Linked DNA regions of Homo sapiens: region 1 is linked to region 2. A link means that fine-mapping ties the variant in region 2 to the expression of a gene that starts in the linked region. Tissue or cell type: whole blood. Region 2 holds a variant in brackets; the other region holds the start of a gene. All regions are shown on one strand. Distances are between the middles of the regions.

The links. PIP is the estimated chance that this variant, and not a neighbour inherited with it, causes the effect.
Region 1: it holds the start of VCAN, and the variant in region 2 is fine-mapped to the expression of VCAN in whole blood (TOPMed, PIP above 0.99).

Annotation. Positions count from the first base shown.
Region 1 is chr5:83,466,674-83,474,776 of GRCh38, reverse strand. VCAN (versican) reads right to left here and starts at 3,033. Exons shown (of 15, transcript NM_004385.5): 1 at 2,754-3,033. RefSeq lists silencers at 1-179, 210-299 and an enhancer at 1,732-2,604.
Region 2 is chr5:83,030,325-83,038,432 of GRCh38, reverse strand. No RefSeq gene overlaps it. Among named protein-coding and RNA genes, the nearest start is that of TMEM167A, 43 kb to the left of the region's middle. The variant A/G (reference allele first, on the strand shown) is at 3,982.

The DNA of each region.
Region 1 (8,103 bases), 440 kb before region 2:
CCCGAATCCTGGGGGCGAGGCCACTCGGCTCTCTCGGTTAAGCTGGGCCCTGCCTTCCCCGCCCCGCCCCCATTGGCCTCGGTGGGTGGGGGCCTCGGCTGCGCCGGCCGCCTGTGCGGCTGTACTGCAGTCTCTGAGCCCAGGAAGTCACACCCGTCTCGGCTGGGAGCCGAAGCGCCAACCCACGTGGCGGCTGGCTAACCCAGCCGCTGCGGGGAGCGCCCGTTGCGGGTCCTCCCTTGGCGCGAGGTGAGCGAGTGGGGGCGGGCCCCAGACCCAGCCCCTTTGGGCGGGGCTGGACCACCTCCGCTTGTCTAGTTCTTTCCCACCCTTCCATCCCGGCACGCCTCTGCAGTCACATTTGTTGCCGCTGGGAAAGGGAAAAGAGTATCCTAAAACGAGTCTCGAAATTCAGACCCAAACCCCGAAACGAACCCTTCCGGTCCGTTCCTGGCTGTTTGAATGCCATCTGCCCCATCTCCGTTCCTTTCTCCTTTTCCTCCCCTCCACGGTCCTCTTTCCTTCCACTTCCCTTCCTTCCCTTTCTTTTTTCCTCCCACTGCCCGCCTTCTCTCCACTTTCCCGTCCGACGCCCGCCCTGAAGTTGAGGAAGTTTAAGTTTTGGATTAGGAGCCCTTCTTTTGCAATATCCTGGGGCGGGGCCCTAGCGTTGGGTTCAAGTGGTCATGGGTTTTGAGAGCACGGTATGTGTATTATCTTTCTTAAAGACGCCCAGGGTGGCGCGTCTAGACCTCCGAAACCTGGCTCCACCCTGGCCATGTGCGTTCGTCCACTAAGCGGCGAACTGGACCCAGGGCGCCGCGTGCGTTCCAGCCGACTCGCGAGAAGGCATCTCTGCACTTTGCACAGACCAAGACCTTTTTTCAGGGTCCTCCAAACTCCTAGATGTACGCCGCAGATTGTGGAGTGCAAAATGAATGACTTAAGGGAAAACTAGGGCCTTCCATCCTTGAACACAAGGTTGTGAAAGATGCTCGCTTGGTCTGGGGGGCTTGTTTTTCTCCGCCTGTGCGGGACTTCTCCATCAGGGGGCGCCCACACCCGCCGCAAAACTCCCAATTCCTAGACATCTAGGTTCTGCAAGTCTTGTGAGCTGAACTGGGGGCAGATCCGAAGGAGCGCACCGCCTCCCTCGCTCCTCCCTCCCTGCTGCCTTGGAGCACGGGAAAGGCAGGGATTTCACACTAGCCATTCATTTGTCAGCTGTGGGGGAGGGGACGCAGAAGCTAGAGAGAGAGAACAGAGGCTGGGAGAGGGGAAGGGAGGCAGAGAAGATGGAGACAGAGGGAGACACAAAGATGAGGAACGCGACCCAGAGAGACTCTGCCGCGGGTGTGCGCGCGGCAGGACAACTCTCCAGGCGCCGTGTAGATTTCTCCCCCTTCCCGCAGCATCTCCCAGGGACATGCAGGACTTGCCGAGACGCAGTTGGATTGGAGAGCAAATAGTTTAGGCTATGACACTATTTTTCTACCCCGCTCTCCTCTGCCTAACACCCAGACCGCTCCACGCCCAGTGACACAGACCGCGGGCCAGAACAACCCGGATGCCCTAGGTCTGCACGCACCAGGGATGTCGCCCTACAGCGCCCACGCCTCTGCAGGACGGTGGGGCGCTCCAGCCGAGGACGTCCCCCGGGGCTCCCGGCACACGCGCGCGCCGCTGCCGCTAGACCTGCCAGTAAAGTTGCTCAACTAGAGCGGAGAACTAGGAGAGGGTGGGGAATATGTAAGGAAACGGAGGACTCCTGTAGTCTGGGCGAGAGGACTGACCCAGAGGCCCCTGATTCGGGTCCCCGAGCCACCTTTGTCTGCAGTGCGCTCTGGGTGCCGGTTTGCTTGTTGAGATGGGAGCGACAGACCCTATTTCACTCTTCAGGGTGAGAAAAATTGTTGCACATCCCTGCCGATTCAGAACAGGCTTTTCCCGCCCAGGGGCCTCCCAGACCTCCGCGGGGCTCCAACAACCCCACCCCCCATCCTCTGCTCCTTCCCTGCTGGCCCCTTCGCACCGCGTGCAGGACAAAAGAACCCAGGGGCGCCGGGAGAGAACCGTGACAGTCCCCAAGTCGTCAAAGAGACACGGCGGGGATCCTGCACCTCCCCCGGCCGGACCTCCTCCCAGACTGCCTGCGGTCTGAAGGGGTCAGGTCCGCGCAAGGTCCCAGGCTGCTTGGGCGCCGGGTCGCACTGTCAGGAGCTGCCCGGGAGTGGCTTTCCAGGAACACCAGGCACTGACCACACACCAGGGGCTGGGAAACCAGGTGGCCTGCACCAAGGCGGCTTCGGGGACTTGTCTGTGGCAAGTCTTGGTAGTCCCCATTCAAACTTTTGCCTCGAGCGTGTTAAGAACAACAACAACAAAAAAATCAAAGTGCCAAAGGTCCCTCTCTTCTCTCCAGCTCAAGAACCCACCACTTTTCTATGATTTCTTTACAATTTATTCCCTCCCTTCCCCCAATTCCGTTAGTCATTTTACCCCCCACCCCACCCTGGGTTTCTTTTGTCTGAATCTTTTTCAACACCAAGGTCCCTCTGTATGCCTCTCCCCAAAAGCCCTTATGAAAGTTACCTGCATTTTTTAAGTGCCTACATTTTCTTAACTTCGCCTTACAGCTCTTTGCCTTAATTAAAGCCTTCTACCAATTGCTTCTTTTTTCTAAGCTCGCGGGTTTTTTTCTATAAGTTTTTTGTTTTTGTTTTTTAAGGGGGGAACAAAAGAAACGTGATTACCTTGGAAGGCGGCTTATTGCAGTTTGGGGGGAAAATTCACTGCAGCGCTGCGCGACTGGGTTCGGCGTTGCCCAGGCGGGTCACATAGGAAGCGTGGTGGCCCGGGGAAGGATGCGGAGGGTGCGGGACGGTGCTGGAAGATGCGGGAGGATGCGGGGCTGGCCGAAGATCTTGGTCCCAGCTCCTGTCCACAACACCTAATGTTCTCGGCTGTTGCGTCCGCACGCCTGGAGTTCTTCCCCAGAAAGGCTCGGGGCAGCTCGCCTGCAAGTTCAAATGCGGGTTGTGACACCCATCATCATTATATCACTGTACCGTCAGAGCCGAGGAGGAGACTCAGCGAGAAGAAGGAGGAGGGAGAGGAGGAGGGTTCATTCACAGGCTCCAAAAGCGCTCCGCAGCTTCAGCCACTCCTAAGAGTCCAGGCTTGGAAAGCAGGCGGAGGGGCGGAAAGGCAGCTCCCCGCGCCTGCGGTAGGGACCGCCTGCCTCCCTCCCCAGGCACTCCCACCTCTTGGCGTTTCTTCCTGACAAGAAGTACCAATCGGCTTGGGGACAGCAGCGCTCCCCATTCAGGGACTCACTCAGTAACATCGCTCTGCTCGCGGAAACCACTGCCCTCCCACTCCTTCCCCACCCCCATTTCCCCGCCCCCCGTGCAGCTAGTTCTGGGTTAGGGGAAAGGAGCCCCCAGGCTCTTAGGGGGCAGGCCAGCAATAGACAATTGAGTACGATCACTTCTTCTCGGGAGCACACAAAACTGTAAAATCAGCAAAGAACTTGGTTACAGCGTGTTTACGCGCCCACAGAGCTTGCCTGTCCCATCAAAGGGAAGTGTCAGGCTCAAGGCTCCTGCCAACCTGAAAGAGACACTGAGAAAACGAGATCCTTCGGGGACCTAGAGGGAAAGTGTAAGAATTCCCCACTGCACTCCCAGGGAACTGCCCAATGGGGAGCCCGGCTTCAAAAGACCCTGGTAATAAAAGGCTGGACAGGAAATTCCCCCAGGCAAATCCCTTGTCGGATTCAAAGAGAATACTTTTCCTCTGCCACAAATCTCTCCCCACATAAGTCTAGATTCTGCTTTCTTCGTTCTTCCTTTCCTTCAGTCTTTCCAAGTATCTCTGAGTAGAATATTTGATAATTTTCCTGAGTAACAGGGACTTCTTGGAAGTATCAATCACCTTTCATGCTTTCCGGAAATAAGACCATAATCTTTCATGCGTATATGCGATTTTTTTTCTTCAGTCAGGCCCACCCCACTGTGTAAACAGCATCAACACATGGAAGAGTCCCCTGCATTGTGTTACAAAAGATTTCCAATAGGACCTTACAGAGAAAAGGGTCAAACAGTTGACACAAAGGATTTCTGTCCCCTTAGAAAAGAGGGACTTTGGATTTTCCTTTTCTTTGAAGTCAAGTATGAGTTTATACAATAGGAACAAAATAAATCCAAGGTGCACATCAGTATAACACTAGGGATACTAGAATGGATGGCAAACTTTTCCTTCTACACAAATATGAAAGTATCCTCACAACTCTTCTCTCTGAAGCCTCTACTTAGAAAATTATATTAAACATAGGACCTCAAAACAGTAGTGATTAAAGATGAAAGCCAATTTTTCCTCTCAACTTCTTTGATTAGTTTGGTTTAAACTTATGCTTTAAAACTTTTAGTAACTTAGACTCCTGTACATGCGCATTTATAAGATTTCTTTTATATTTTGTAATTTGTAGGCATTCAGCATGGTCATTGATTTTAAGTGATAAACAGGTAGAAGACTTGTCAGGATAATTTCAGTTCTCACCATGTGCATCTTTCATTTCTTTTGTTATTTATCAGCCCTCTGCAGTAATATAACTGTCAGTTACATCATTTGGAAATCAATGTGTTTTTGCAGTGAATTATTTATTCTTAGTAAATTTATTGTACTACCATTCCAAACACTGAAATTTGATTTCATCAGATGTTTAGAATGATAGTCACAGAGCAGAATCAGACTTCAACCTTCATGTATAACATGTAAACAAACTAAGGTGCAGAAAGTTACTGTCCCAAAGTCACACAATTAATAGTCCAGTGGTCTTTTCAGTGCTAATCATAGCAACTTTAGATTCAAGATTGCTTGATTCAGGAATGGAGAGAAATAAAATAAAATGAATGTTCATTGAAATATATACTCCAGACATTAAGATAGACCTTTCTGTGAAACACTTCAAGATGTGGATTTGTATTCTCATTCTTAAATTTGAGTAAATCTAGTTGAGTTTCAAAGAGTTCAAGTAACCTGCCCAAGGCCATTTTGTAAGTGACAGATCTGCCAGTCTGAAAAGCTTATTATCTTTTACCCTTTTGTCCCTTTATGATACAGTTAAGTAAAACCTTTCAACAAAGGAGAACTAGATCAGAAACAAGCAACTAATAGCAGATTAATGCCCATTTTTAGGGAAATGTTAATAGTTAACATTCACTATAAATAATGCCATCTGTATATAATGGAACATGATTGAAAGTGATGGGTTAGATACTTTTTACATTCTGAGATGTTTTCATTTATGTTGCCAAATTTGATTCTCTAATCCTCCAAAATTTTTAGTTTCTTTTAATGCCAATAGACTTCACAACACTTGACCAAATACTTCTACAGGACAAAGGCACTTTCTCAGGGCTGACTTAAGGAATTAGAATATGCACAATGTTGAAAAGCTTTAAACTGCCTGTCTTTTCTCTTCTTTGACTTGTAACATTATTATTCAGAAAATTAAATACTTCTTCAGGCTATCAGATAACTAAAATGAAATTATACCCCATGGATATCTTCTTTCTATCTCTAGGGCAGACTTTCCCCTCTAGCTGTCTAAAATGGAGAATGGATAAAAAAGAAAAAGGAAAACATACCAGCTATATTTAGAATAGAGTCTACAGTTGTATTATTATTTCTATGTAACTGTTTTTAATGACTTTCCTTCATCAAGAGAAAGAAAATGAGAGAGCATTTATTTCTGATTCTCCAATGCCTGACAAAACTATCAGAAGTTTTTGAATGGGAAAATATATATTTTTCAGGTTTTATAACTAAAATTGTATTTATTTGTCCATTACACTCAAGTATGAATCAAACAGTAATTAAAATATTATTCTGTGAGTCCCCCTTTAAATCACATCCTTGTACTGGGGATATTCTTTGTGAAAACTCCAAGATCCCAGGTATAAATAAAGCAAGATCTTCATTCACAATGCTTGTGTCTAAAAGAAACCATAAGCCAGAAGCTATGTGCCTTGCTTCCTTGCTTTGATCTTGTCTTTGGGAATTTGGCTGAGCTCAGGGGCAGCAAGCCAATGACTTGGAGAGGAAAGGTGTAGATGGCAGATGTGTCTCCAGGGAATTTTATTATCTTCATCTAAACCTCCTTCTGAGGTTCTTTAGGATTACATTTCAGACTTCTCCTTTTTTATTGATCAGGTGAAGTGTTCTTAGACATGGCATCATCTATTGCTGCTCTAGGGATGACAAGATTCCAGTCCCATTCAAATTCAGAAAGAGCTTAGTTTCAACTCCTTGATCTGACTGGTCCTAGGCACAACTAAGCAAATTATCCTCACTGGATGATACAGTAATGCTACAGATTAAAAATGTACTTTTAACTTTCAAAGACCCTGGAAAAAGGAAGCCTATCCTCTAAGATTGTGTCATAATTTTTTTTTTAAATAAAACACTGCAAATTAGGGACAGACATTTCATCCAGCACTTTGAATTCTCTTTGGCTTTCTAGGAAAGGCAGAAATACAAGGTCTTTATTGCCTTCTTTTTATTCTTAAAAAAGAAATCTTGCAAAAGGCAAAGTGATGGTGGCAATCTCATTGTGCTTTAACCCGAAGTATATAAATTGCTCTGATAAATTAAACACAGACAAATTTCCTTAGAAAGCCATAAAACATTAGATTTTTCCCAGACATCAGATATTGAGTTTTTGCTCTCCAACCCCCAAATCAAAATGTTACAGTAAAATATTTGTTTTAATAAATTTTTTTTTCTCCTGTGCTGTAAATGTCCTGTTCATGGTTGAGCAGATTTCTCTAGAACTTAACTGAAAGACCATCTACATCACGACAGAACTATGCAAGCCAAAGCCAAGTTCCAACATGGAGTGATGGGAGAGGCCGGGCTGCCGAGAGGAGATGACTTCATTAGTGAGAAGAGAGGCTCTCTGAGCCGGTCCTCAAGGCAGCCAAATGGCTCAGCACATCTGCACTCACCCTGGGAGGCTGCCTGGAGCAGAGCATCAAAAACGCTATCTTTTTTATAAAGAAAAAGATGAAGGCATAAAGAACACAGTCCAACTAAATTGAATCAAAGATTGTATCACTCTTACTCCCTCCTTAGTCACTTTCTCAAAGTCTTTTTCTTCTCTCCCCACAGTCTGAAAAATATAGGTCATTTTTATAAAGCATTTGTCTGACTGAAGCAAGACAAACTGAAGAGTCTGGTTTCTGAACACAAGGAAGCGGTAGAGATCTTAGAATCAATGAGGCAGGGCGGAATACAATGCAGAAGGTTTCTTAAGAGGCAAAACTTTTGCAGTTGCTGTTTATTTTCAGTGACTACCCGTTTCCATTTATTTAATTAGACTACAGTGGGACCGAGACAAGGAGCATAATGAAAGCTGCTGCACTGATGGTGCAAAAAGACACATGGCATCATTAATGTCTCTGTGGTGAGCAAAGGTAGAACGCAAGACAGAAAACAAGGAAACCTCTGTGTTGTAAGAAAAGTGTTCAGCATGGGTATCAACCGGCATGTAGAAGCAGCAAGCATACATTCCATTTTTATTCTATTGACAAAAAGAATTGCAGGACTAATGCTTGCTCCTATTAAAATATGAGAAATCACATTTTAATCCTACAAATCAAAGGTCAAATATTTGTTGCAATAATTCCAAAAAAAAGAGAAGATCTGTAAGACTTAGCAAATACTTATTACAAACAGACTGCTTTCAATTTTTTATATTTTCTCTCAATTCAACAAAAGTTTATTGAGCAGCTTTTATGTGCATTGTTTTAGATAGTAGGCATTATTCAAAAAAGTAACAATTATTTTCCATCTTTAAGGAGTTTATAATGTCTCTAGAAAGAAATTAACTCATTGGAGTAGCCAAAGTTATAACTGATCTATAAAATGACTAGTGAACTTAGAGGAAAATTATATATAAATATTTTTGTCTCCATTGGCTGGTTCAGCTAGACATCATTTTAAAAAACATCCCATTGACTACAAATGGATGAAGGAAGGATAATAGTTCAGTAAATCTATCTCCCTTACTGGAAAATCTCTTTCATGCACATAATCTAT
Region 2 (8,108 bases):
TTGATGGATTAACCTTGAGTCAGAGGTTGCAGTGAGCCGAGATTGTGCCACTGCACTCCAGCCTGGACAACAGAGCGAGACTCCGTCTCCAAAAAAAAAAAAAAAATCATTTGAATTAATCATCAGTTAGGATTAGGGGGAGGGCTTATTCTATAACACACCCACTAAATTTTGGGGTACCGAGATATGGGTGACAGTGGAGAGCCATTGAAATCCACTTTCCCCCAGACCTAAGGTTGATAATTTTTAGAATATTTTGTATTTTCAACTAATTGCAACTTTTTAACTTTTTTGGTTCCTTAAGGAATAATTAACTAGAAAAAAATAATTAATTGAGCTTGGTTGCCATGTGCTAACGTAGTGCTGGATTTCTGACTGTAGCTTCAGAAGATGCACTTTATCCACTTTCTCTGTCATGTCTACAGTGCACAGAGATTTGTAGCCCTTTAATGTTATCAAACTCACATCCTTTTGTACAGGACCATCGAGCAAACTTGGCTCATCAAATATGTTTCAGATTAGTTGAGAGAAAAAGACAGTAAAAAAAGTGCCAATGATATTCAAGGGAATCAGGTTTATTTGGGGGTGAATGGCATCCTGGCCCTTATTTGTGCTAATTGCCTGGTAAAAGAATTATTTTGGCTTCTGAAGGAGTGGGTATTTTATTTTATTGCTGCTTAATCTTCATTTTCCATATGAGGAGATTTTCTTCAGAAATATTCTGAAAGAAAAAAAAGGTAGTGGAAAAATATAGAGCCATTGGGAAAAAAATGGTTTAATTACATATGTCACCAAAATAAATTAAGGCTCCTTCTTCCAATCCTGCTTCCTTCTAATGACTCTGATAACTGAAGTGCTGAGTTTTATTAAATAGAGCAGAAGAGAACTCTCTGGAGATTAAAGAAGCTATTGAGATTTTCATACCTGCTGAAAAAGAAAAAGTCTCCCTTTTGTAGCTGACAGGCCCGTAATGAGCACATTTTGTAGCTGGAGAGAAAGAAAAAGAAGATGAAAGAAAAATCTTTTGAAGACTGAAGAAAGGGGAAATCCCACTAATATAGTGAAACCCCTTAATTGTTTTCCAAGAGACAGAAAAAAAACACTATTTAAAGGTCACATTGGCTTGTTTGAATTCGTTTGGCTTTCAGAAGATAAATATTGTGTATGGGAATATAAGAATGTCTGCTAGAAACCACTTTTGCACAATGAACAAAGGAATCATCCCTAATATGTGATTAACTGACGTTCCCTGCTCACCACAAATGTTGGCTTTCATAGACTTCAAGTGAAGGGGCACTTTATTAATTGGCTGAAGAATTCCTTAGAACGCCTAAGAGATTAAGACCACAGGATGCTTCAAGGTTCTTTCTTTCTTGAAAAAAAAAAAAAAGTATACAGATTTAAAAAACATGTTGACTGCAATAGCATTATCATCTATCTTAAGTATTACAGAATTAACCTATTGTTAGCCTTCAAAAATTTTCCTGCAACATGTCAGATTAGCTCAATGTCTATTAAATGGCCATTTTGGTTTTTCCTTCACCTTCAAAAAACAAGTCTAATTGTCATAAAATTTGCTCTCTCAAACCCAAATAGACTTTGTGACTTTAAATGCAGATTGCTAAATTATTCCCAAGGCAAGTGAAAGGAAGGATTGCACCCACCGTGCTGCTATTTAAAATGAATTTTAACCCCTTAGGCTGACAACTGACACAAACTCAGATTGCCACACACAGAAGCCAAGGGGTCTGTTGGAATAAGAGCTGCCATTTCCAATAAAAATAGAGTGCTGCAATAATGCCATGGTGAACAAGGTTTGTCGTTGAAATCATAGATCTGATCTAGATGAGATTAAGGGTGAAAAACTAGGGGGATATGAATGAGATTTTATGTTGGGTAGATTTGAGATGCCTTCTACACACTGCTGAGGCAGCCAAGGCTTCATAAACCCTACCTCTCCTCCCGCCCCTTCCTGCCCCCGCCCCCACTCCAATACATTGATTATCTTATGTTTGGAATGATTGATTCTTTTGGTTCCAGGAAACCACCCTGGGATCTGACAGGAAATGGTGGATTGTTTATTTATTTTTCAGTTAGGAAACAAATTGAGCTCCAGAATCTGTGTATTTAAAATTGGGTCTCATTTAGAAGCCACTCAGCAGCATGTATTCTAAATCATGTTCTGCTTATTATAATGTGTTTATTTAGAACTTTATATTTTATCACTGGCTTTATAATTCTTTAAGTCAACCATTCCCTGTATCCTCTTAGCTGCTAACGTCTCAATTCTTAAACACAGTTTGTGCAGCAGGATAGTTCACAGTAGTGCCTTGTTGAGGGGGCTATGTGTCTGTGCTGTCCTGTGTGTCTGTGCTGTCCCAGCCATCACCAGTACGGCTCTCTCTGAAATGTGGCTGAGTGCCCAGAGAATGAACTAGCTACTGCCTGGTAGAGAGGAGAACCAAAGGCTGGCACTTGGCAGGGGCCTGCACTCTTGCAGCTGCTGAGTGCTAAATTATTACTGATGTGTTTCTCCAGCCTTTCTCAGCAGAGCTAGCCTAATGCAGCATGAACCTCTCCTCTGGCCCTTAGCATGGGACTTGGGTTTCAGAGCTGGAATAAAGCAGGCCAACTGAGACAGCTTCTGCCCAGGGCAGAGCAGCACGCACGGCTGTCCTGCACAGATGCTGAAATGCAGTGGACACATGTCCTGCTCTTCATGTGTAGAGACTCCCACCGTGAGCCTAATGTGATCGCTTTAGAAGCTTGGTGGTTTTTACATAGGCATATGAATTGATCAAATTGAGCCTCTGAGGCAAAAATACACCACTCAGACAGAGCCTTTAACAAAGAGCAGCTCCCATAATGCTGAGGAGGGATGGTCTCTCCAGGAGACTACAGGAAAAGGTAGAAGCAGACTTTCTGCTTTCAGCTTAAAGAATCAAGCTCAATCAACCTGTGCTTCTCCAACCTGGCATTTAGGTGTCTTGTAATCTTCTAGTACACTGGTTAGGTGTGATAGCTGTGCATGGTATTTGTAAGAGAGGCAGAGAAGGCTCATACAAAGAGCCTAGGATTATAGACCACCGGTCTAGAACCCCTGTGTGACTATACAACTACAAATAACTTGGCTTCCTGTGCCTCCACTTTCTCATCCATCTCTTGCATGTGTAAATACATAGATTGCTAGCCTAGGTTATTTGATATAATTTTAAGGTAAATCTCCTGCAGTGCCAACGTAAGTGGCATTGCATGAATAGTCAAATCATAAATTATAACACAGTATTTTTATGCTGTCGTCTCCTAACATCCAACACTCAATTCTGCCCATCAGAGTGAGGCAAGCTGTACCCTGAGCCCTTTCCCCAAGGCTCTTACTTGAAAAAACAGGGCTTATCTCTCTTCACATAATTTCCTTCTAAGAGCCACTCAGAGCAGAGGGTGACAGTAATTACTGACAATTGATTTATCTTGCTTATAATGACAAACTTTGGTAAAATTTAGGAATTTATGATCAGATCTACCTATATTACTTATGTAAAACTAAAACACTCTGTTTGGCTTTTCTTTCTTTTTTTCTCAAGATAATGTACTCAAGGAAATACAACTTAAAAAACACAATTTTGTTAAAAATAATTTTTTTCAAAAAAAACCCACACACATTTTCCACACCCCTCCGCCTGCCCGCCAACCAGCTGGAACTTGTTCTTCCTCACTCATCTACCAAGAGGAAATTTACATTTAGCAAAGTAAGATGTCTCCTGTGCATTGTTCATGTTGGTTGTCTGATAGTCTCTGTAGTCCAAACAACTAAGTTGTTAACATTTCATTTTTCTGCCAGTTGCTTTATTGTAATGTGGATACTGCCTTAGAATATTTTCATGCTTTAAAATATGTTGTGCCAAAGAGGTTTGGAAAAAACTACATCTCCAACTCCAAGGCAAACCCATCCAAAAAAAAAGGTAGCATTAGAAGTGCTCT[A/G]TATAGTGGTTCATATTTCCTTATACATTTTAATTTCCTCACTCACAAATCCTTCAAGAAACTACTCTCCAACATTCCTTTTTAAGCACAATCTTCAAGGAAATAAGAGAGAAAAATCAAGAAAGCCTCTTGTCACTGCAGGTGGCTTTTCATGGTGGCAAGAGTCATCTCCGGGAAATTGCCTTAATGTTGCACATATCCAGCTATTTGTGGTGAGAGCCTAGAAACCCACAACAGAGTCTGACAATTTCTCTGAGGGACGTTGTTTGCTTTTGGGAAATCCATTAACTCTTCCAGTCTCCGAGGATCCACTTAATCCAGCACTGTCTAATAGACATGTGAGCCACACATCTATTTTTAAATTTCAAGTGGCTACAATTAGCCATACTAGAATAAAAAAAAGCAAGTGTTATAAATTTTAACAATATATTAAGTTAACCCACTATATCCAAAACATAATTTTGACATGTAAACAGTATAAAAAACTATTAACAAAATATTTTGCTTTTGTTTTTAAAATCTAGTATGTATTTTGTACCAATAGCACATCTCAGTTTTATCCAGCTACATTTCAAGTGCTCAGTAATCACATATGCTAATAGCTACAGTATTGGACAGAACAGAGTTAATCCATTGCTTTTTACCAGGACATGTAATGCTGCCTGAGGGATCCAAAGGAATTAATGTCTCTGAATATGGACAGCTCATTACCTTTTGTTTTTACAAATGTTTTTTTAAAAAGCATTATTAGCAAAGTGCCTCCAAGACACACCAAGACATATAATCATTCATACCTTCAAAATGCAGTGATTCCGGACACTGAGATTATCTCAAATAGTACCAGATCTTACAACTTTGAAAGGTGGATAACAGAATTTCTACTTACTCACAAGATCACATATTTAGATTTCTTTTAATAAAATTTTATTTTAAAATAGTTTTAGATATAGAGAAAAATTGTGAAGATAATACAAAGAGTTACCATATACTTCATGCCCAGTTTCCCCAAATATTAATGACAATAAATTTGTATGCAATATTTGTTATGATTAATGAACTAATATGATATATTGTTATTAAGTAAAGTCCATGCTTTATTCAGATTTTCTTAGTTTTTTCCTAGTGTCCTTTTTCTGTTCCAAGTTCCCATCAAGATACCCTATTACATTTAGTCATCATGTCTCCTTAAGCTCTTCTTAGCTGTGACAGTTTCTCAGATTTTTCTTGATTTTATTAGCCTTGATAGTTTGGAGGTGTGCCAGTTAAGTATTTTATAGGCTGTTCTGCAATTGTGATTTGTTTAATTTTTTTTTTCATAATTAGCATACAATTATGGGTGTTTGGGAGAAAGAGCACAGAGTTAAAGTGCCACTCTTATCACATCAAGAGTACATACTATCTATTATGACTTATGACTGCTGATATTAACCTTGACCACCTGGCTGGGGCAGTGTTTGTCAGGGTTCTATACTCTAAAGTGACTCTAATTTACCTTTCCTTATTTTACTCTTTGGAAAGAAGTTATTATACACAGGGCAAACTTAAGGAGTAGGGAGTTATGCTTCACCTCCTTGAGGGCAGACTTGTTCTTTTGCATGAAAAAATTGTCTAGTCTCGCCTACTTATTCTTTTATTCAATCATTTTTTACGTCATTTGGAGTCATAAATATTTATTTTATACTGTGGGTTATAATCTAATACTACTTGCTTTTGTTGCTCAAATGTTTCAGCTTTGGCTATTAGGAGCTCTTTCAGTTGGCTTCTGTGTCTTTTTGACAGATCCCCATCACTGTGGTCTTTGGGTTCTGTTTGTTTTATTGTTTTGTTGTTGAGAACTGCCTTGCCTTCTGACACTGTAAGGTGCTCCAGGCTTGTCTTGTATATTTCCTGCCCTAGTCCTAGAATCAGATGTTTCTCCAAGGAACCCTGGTTCTTTTTAATGTAGAATGGTTAAACAACAACAAAACCAAGATCTGGGTGCTAGGTGTTTAACTTACTTACAGAGCATTGTCTGTAATTTATAATCAAGTTACTCTGGAAAAAAAAAAAGCAACATATACTATACTGAACACTTTCCAAGTGGCAGGCATACGGTAAAATTTGAAGAACATCTGGAATCTCTAGGAATATTACTAAGGCATTCCTGTCAGTGGCAATGCAGATGTAAGATTAAAAAAAATGTAAGATAAAAAAAGGGCAAACTAAGACTTTTCACAACCTTTTCTTGATGAGTCAAATATGAAAGATGGCAAGAGATTAAAATATTACATACTACCTTAAAAAAAAAAACCACCTCAGTGGAATCTAAAAGAAAATGTGTTGGCCCAAGGGAAGATTACTACTATCAAACTGAAAAAGAATTAAAATTATGCAGTTGTGTTTGTGTGTGTGCTGAATAGGTTGTAAGGGCTTTAAAAATTACTTTTTAAAAACTTGTTCCAAGCACAACGCCTGGTATATAGCATACAAGTGTTTCTTAAACAAATAAACTGGATTATAATTATAATTTCTAAATGTTTCTGCCTAACTTTATTATAAGCATTTAGTTTAATATTATTCAAATAATAAAAAAAAATTTAAGAGGATATTTTTCTGTTCTTACAAGAACAGAAGCTCACACTGAATAATATTTTACTCTGGTCTATTCAGTTGCCAAATCCTTTATACTGTTCCTTTCTTGCCCCACCTGCCCCAGTATCACAAAATCATTAAACAAAATTTTCAAAGAAGTCATGGAATGATCATTTTTTAAGGCAAAGTTAAACTAAGCCAAGTGAGCATTTCACTAAAACATTCCACTGGAGCTGGTCTTGGAGTCATGAAGGGAGGCATTTAGTCCAACTATGGAAAAAGCAAAGCAAACCAGTTCTGGTATTTGGTTTAATTCTTCTGCTTCTAATTGAGTAGGGCAGTGACCTCATGCTAGCCCTGCCCTATGCTGGTTTGATATCCACTCCCTTCAACTGGCCACCCCAGCTTTTTCTGCAGGCTGCTGCTCTCCACACTCGCATCCTTCTTTCTATGCCTGTGTGATGTCTTCAGTCCTCACATGCATCTTGCTTCCACTTGCCCTTAAACCATCAGATATTCTCATTAACACTTCAGTTTGGGGCCTATTTCATCTTTAGAAGAGTCAGCACCCCTGGTGTAATCCAGAAACCATGATCTAGACCTATACTACTTCAGACTTCTTGAACTTTTGAAATAAAACCTTAAAAACGTTGAATTGTTCAACTACATGTGATTAAGGTCCTATATTAAAAGTCTATTTGGGAGTTATCTTAACAAAGGTTTTAAGAAAACAGTAGCCTGTGTTCTCAATTGTTCTCTCTCCCTAGATAATATATTTAAATTAATGTGTATTTCTCTTCTCTCTCTCTCACATACACACACACAGCCATTTAATCCAAGCTTTCATTCAAACCAAGGATCTTTCCACAAAATCCCTGAGAGTCAACTTTTACTGTTTACTAAAACTGTCTTCACTGTGTGGAGCTTACTTCTTTGTGAAGCTTGGTGTTTCATTTGGACAGGCCAATTTATGGAAAGCTGTCCTTCATACTGAACTGAAATTGATCTTTTCATCTGTGCCTATCATTCCTGGAATCAAATGAGATACCATATCCTGAAATTTTTTGAAATGGCAAAGCACTGAATAAATATAAAATATATTAATGTCAGTTCTACTGTATAGAGTTTGAAAATTTGACAAGCACACTGTCCTCTCCAAGTCATTGGAATAGATGAATATGAGAACAGAACAAGAGAGATACTCTGCACAGGTTTTGGAAGTGCTCCTTTCAATTTGATATTAATCCATTAATCAGTATTCTTTAAACTACTCTATTTAAGCAGTGAGAGGCAGGGACCAGGTTAAGCCAAGACCTAGAGAATAAAAACAAAGCCAAAGTAGAAAGAAAACCAGGACCCACCACCACCCCAGGCCTGCAGCAAATACATCAGTGTTCACTCAAGGCCCAAGGACCCTTCAGTCAGCTTGTGATGAATACTGTTGAGCCTGGGACTCTCCCTTCAGGACAGTGCTCCCCTCTAGCCCAGGAAAAGTCCAGTAATACCATCCATGTGCCAAGGCCTCGAATCATGGACCCCAAGAGCCCACTTGGTTC